2 separate regions of the Homo sapiens genome follow, and region 2 is linked to region 1. A link means that fine-mapping ties the variant in region 1 to the expression of a gene that starts in the linked region. Tissue or cell type: thyroid. Region 1 holds a variant in brackets; the other region holds the start of a gene. All regions are shown on one strand. Distances are between the middles of the regions.

Evidence for each region. PIP is the estimated chance that this variant, and not a neighbour inherited with it, causes the effect.
Region 2: SMYD3 starts here. The variant in region 1 is fine-mapped to the expression of SMYD3 in thyroid (GTEx, PIP above 0.99).

The regions. Positions count from the first base shown.
Region 1 is chr1:246,550,470-246,552,969 of GRCh38, reverse strand. TFB2M (transcription factor B2, mitochondrial) reads left to right here. Exons shown (of 8, transcript NM_022366.3): 5 at 1,668-1,757. Among named protein-coding and RNA genes, the nearest start is that of TFB2M, 15 kb to the left of the region's middle. The variant C/G (reference allele first, on the strand shown) is at 1,394.
Region 2 is chr1:246,506,194-246,508,939 of GRCh38, reverse strand. It overlaps SMYD3 (SET and MYND domain containing 3), which reads left to right and starts at 1,661. Exons shown (of 12, transcript NM_001167740.2): 1 at 1,661-1,886. The coding sequence starts at 1,723. RefSeq lists silencers at 802-1,034, 1,524-1,703, 1,974-2,023 and enhancers at 1,709-2,209, 2,210-2,710.

The sequences.
Region 1 (2,500 bases):
GATTACAGGTATGAGCCACAGCGCCCAGCCAGGTTTTTTTTCCCTCCCTTTGTTTTTAAATAGAGACAGTGTCTCACTTTGTTGCCCAGGCTGGTCTCAAACACCTGGGCTTAAGTGATCCTCCTCCCTCGGCCTCCCAAAATGCTGGGATTACAAGTGTGAGCTACCATACTCAGCTGAATTTATTAGTTTTAACAGGATTTTTTTTTAATATTTAAGGGGTATTATAATTATTTTTTTTAACTTTAAAACATTAAAAGAAATTTTTTTAGAGACAGGGTCTTGCTCTGTTGCCCAGGCTTGAATGTCGTGGTATGTTCATAGCTCACTGCAGCCTCAAACTCCTGGGCTCAAGTGACACTCCTGCCTCAGCCTCCCTGTAGCTGGGACCACCTGTGCACACCACCACACCCAGGTAGTTTATTTTTGTAGTGACAGGGTCATGCTGTGTTGTTCAGGGTGGTCTTGAACTCCTGTCTTCAAGTGATTCTCCTGCCTCGGCCTCCCAAAGTGCTAGGATTACAGTTGTGAGCCATTACACCGAGCCTAAGATTTGAGACTCTAGTTCAATTCTCTGTAATGGAAGGTCTTCCTGACAACCTTGATCTCGCTATGAGTGTCATCTTTCTTTTCTGCCCAGAATGTTTCATGTTATTGATCTGTTAATCCAGTTTGACGGGAAATGCTTGTTTGTCTTGCTGTGTTGCCCATGCTGGAGTGCTATGGCTTTTCACAGGCACGGTCATCTCACACTGAACCCCCAAACTCCTAGACTCAAGCAGTCCCCTTGCCTCAGCCTTTCGAGTAGCTGGGACTACATGTGCACACCACTGCACCCAGCTTTTTGTATCTAATTCTAGTTTTCTCTGCTTAAATTTCTAGATGCTATTAAGATAGTACTATTAAGACTCAAAGAAGATTAAGATTTTTATAATGCTTATTTGTATTGCTATGGATTAGGATAGTGGGGCAAAAAATGAAGGGATGATTTGCTCCCCCAGACCCATTTAGTAAATACATATTTGCTAGCCATGGAAAGACAGCGAGGGCCTCAGGACCTTGGGGCTGTGCATACGCTATTCAACAAAGGAAAGACAAGGAGAAGAATAGGAAGTGCTGTGTTAGATTCCTGCTGCTAGGGTTATATTCCACTGGCCCATGCCTCTTTTGCCGTGGACCTTTTCACATGTGGTTTCTTGTCTGCGGAGTGCCTTCCCATTCGTTGAGGTAACCTCGTCCTTTCAAGTCAGCCTTAACACTTGTGTGTTGTTGTTTTTTAAGAGATGCGGTCTCACTATGTTGCCCAGGCTGGTCTTGAACTTCTAGGCTCAAGCATCCTCCCACCTTGGCCTCCCAAAGTGCTGGAATTACAAGCGTGACCCCGCGTGCCCTG[C/G]CGTTGCCCCTGCCGGAGTGCTGTGGCTATTCACAGGCACGATCATCTCACACGGAACGCCCAAATGCCTGGGCTCAAGCAGTCCCCTTGCCTCAGCCTTTCGAGTAGCTGGGACTACAGGCGTGCACCGCTGCACCCGGCTTTTTGCATCTAATTCTAGTTTTCTTTTCTTAAATGTCTAGATGCCATTAAGATAGTCCTATTAAGAGTCAGCATTTGTTTTTAATTGATTATAGATGTGTATAACATGTAATTTTTATTTTCCTTTTACTAGAAACTAATGGCAGATCCCGGAAATCCAGACTTGTATCATGTATTAAGTGTTATCTGGCAATTAGCTTGTGAGATTAAGGTTCTGCACATGGTGAGTAAAATCCTTCTGTTTAAAAACGTTTTTCTTTAGCGACAGGGTCTCATTATGTTGCCCAGGCTGGAGTGCAGTGGCACAATCATAGCTTGCTGCAGCCTTGAACTACTGGACTCAAGTGATCCTCTCACCTTAGCCTCTGGAGTAGCTGGGACTACAGCCAGGCGCCACCATGCCTGGCTAAGTTTTAAAATGTTTAAGAATATTGCCCAGCCTGGTCTTGAACTCCTGGCCTCAAGTGATCCTTCTGCCTTAGCCTCCCAGATCACTGGGATTACAGGCATGACCCACTGCACCTGGCTCTATTTTTTATTTTTTTATTTTTTGAGATGGAGTCTCACTCAAGTCACCCAGGCTGGGGAGCAGTGGTTCGATCTCGGCTCACTGCAACCTCTACATCCTGTATTCAAGCAATTCCCCTGCCTCGGCCTCCCGAGTAGCTGGGACTACAGGCGTGCACCGCCACACCTTGCTAATTTTTGTATTTTCGGTAGAGACAGGTTTCACCACATTGGCCAGGCTGGCCTTGAGCTCCTGACCTCAGGTGATCTACCCGCCTCAGCCTCTTAAAGTGCTGGGATTACAGGCGTGAGCCACTGCGCCTGGCCCTGGCTCTAATTTTTAAATATTTACAATGTGGATCTTCACGTGTTCTCGTCACTGCTTCCGCCTGAGAATATGCTGAGGTCTTCAGTCTGCACCTTGCTGTATTTTTTTTTTAAGCTCAGGAATGTTATCTC
Region 2 (2,746 bases), 44 kb after region 1:
GACACCCCATTCACAGCTGGGGATGTGCAGCATTGCGCTCCCACCTCAGGGCCTTGGCTCTGCCACCTCGACTTGGAATGTTCTCAGCTCCCTCCAGGCTTCTAGAAGCATCTGGGACACAGCTCATGGCTGGATAAGCACCCGAGGCCCCACAACCCAAACAAGCTTCCCATCCTCATTTTATTTTTTGTCAAACTTATGAAAATTTATTAAGATATGACTTACATCCCTGGTAAGTGCACAGCTTAAAAGATATTCACAGATGGAACACACCAGCCCCCAGATCACAAAGCCAACCATGCCCAGCCCCTCCCAACACCCCCAGCCCTGAAACCAGTGTTCTGACTTCTGACAGCACCACGAGCCTGCCTTTTGTACTTTACACTCATGGAAGCATAACCACCTTCATGTTTTAAAATAAATGTTTACTTTTGAAATGACTTTAGATACACAGAAAAATTGAAAGGCACTATAGTGTACTCCTACACCTTCCATCCAGCTGCCCTTAATAATGACATTTTGCATTACCATGGCACGTTTGTCCAAACTAAGAAATTTAGGCCGGGTGGGCTGGGCGCGGTGGCTCACGCCTGTAATCCCAGCACTTTGAGAGGCCGAGGCGGGCGGATCACAAGGTTAGATCGAGACCATCCTGGCTAACACGGTGAAACCTCGTCTCTACTAAAAATACAAAAATTAGCCGGGCGTGGTGGCAGGCGCCTGTAGTCCCAGCTACTCAAGAGGCTGAGGCAGGAGAATCGCTTGAACCCGGGAGGCAGAGGTTGCAGTGAGCCAATATCGTACCACTGCATTCCAGCCTGGGCGAGAATGAGACTCCGTCTCAAAAAACAAAACAAAACAAAACAAACCCCAAAAACAAAAAAGAAAATTAAGCTGGGTGTGGTGGCTCACACCTGTAATTCCAGCAATTCGAGAGGTCGAGGCAGGAGGTTCAGGTTCACTTGAGGCCAGGAGTTTGCGACTAGCCTGGGCGACATAGGTAGACTGTCTCTGGAGGAAAGTAAAAAGCATTAGCCAGGCATGGTGGCGTGAGCCTATAGTCCCATCTAGTCAGGAGGCCCAGGCGGGAGGATTGCACATGCCTGTAGTCCCAGCTACTATGGAGGCTGAGGCAGGAGAATCGCTTGAACCCGGAGGTCAGAGGTTGCAGTGAGCCGAGATCTCGCCACTGCACTCCAGCCTGGGCGACAGAGCAAGACTCCGTCCTAAAACAAAAAAAAGTTACAGTGCAAAGTACTAGTTGTGATGTCATGATGCCTGCAACTTTGAAATAGTTTAACGACAATACGTGTATACATAGCTACAGGTGGGGAGAGAGTGACGAGCAGAAATGGCAAAGTGCTAGGTTGTCTGATTTAGGCGGAGGTATATAGGTGTTCACTGCACTGTTTTCAACTGTTCCGTATGCGTTAAAATGATCGTAATACAATGTTAGAGGGAGAAAAAAAACCCCGCCTGTCTTCTGCGCAGTCGCCATGGGCACGAGCCGCACGCGGAGCCTTACGACCACCTTCAGGTCCCACACACTCCACTCCAGCCGTCCCTCCAGACTCCATCTGCGCATGCTCTTGCCCCACCGCGCCCGCCCCGCCCCTCGGGCGTACGTGTGCGCGCAGGGCGCAGGCGCGCGGGTCCCGGCAGCCCGTGAGACGCCCGCTGCTGGACGCGGGTAGCCGTCTGAGGTGCCGGAGCTGCGGGAGGATGGAGCCGCTGAAGGTGGAAAAGTTCGCAACCGCCAAGAGGGGAAACGGGCTGCGCGCCGTGACCCCGCTGCGCCCCGGAGAGCTACTCTTCCGCTCGGATCCCTTGGCGTACACGGTGTGCAAGGGGAGTCGTGGCGTCGTCTGCGACCGCTGCCTTCTCGGGTGCGTAAGGAGCGCCCTCGCCTACCTGAGTCGCGAGCTGTGTGGGGTGCTGGGGAGGGGGGGGCGTCGGGCGGCCGGCAGCCGCGGGACTCCTGCTGGATGGGGCTGCACAGGCAGCTTGGCGGTGCTGCCCCTGACGCGCGTGTGCCCGGGGGCGGGTCGCTGCTGACAGGCCCCGCCCGGACACCCCCCTAGGTTGCCGCAGCGGGGCTGGGAGGGGGCCCAGGCTCAGCCACTGCCCCCCAACCTGGGCTGCGGTGGAAATGGGAAAGCCATTGGGCAGACTTGAGGGGGAAGCGTTGTGCCGGGGATAATTTTGCTGGGAGACGAAAAGTCTGTGTGCTGGACAGTCTTCCTTGGTGCGGCTGTGGAAATCACACGTGGCGGGCGTGGGGCTGGGTGGGAGCTGGGATGAGTATAAATCAGGCTCCCCTGCAGAGGCCCCGCCGGTAAAGCATCAGGCTTGCAGCAGGTGGAAGAATCTTGATGTCTACGGTGCACCTCTGTGGTCTGGGTTGTGTGTGGCCTGGGGATACGAAGAGGAACGGGACCTCCTCAAAGAGCTGATCAAGTGAGAGAGAGAATTACAGTGTACCAGAAGGGCTGAAATAGAGGGGCAATTAATGTGCTGTGGGAGCATCAGACACGGGTCCCCCGTGTGCTGTGCCATTTAATGGCTGTGCAGGCATGTCTAACTCTTAACCACCATTCTAGATGCAGGGATTCACGTGAAGGTGTTTTGGAAGCCTGGACGCGCTGTGCCGGTGTAAAGTGCTATGTGAAAGCAATTTATGGAAATGTGTAACATACATGAATAATAGGAACTGCATTCAGTCAACAAATATTATTGAGCTTCTGTG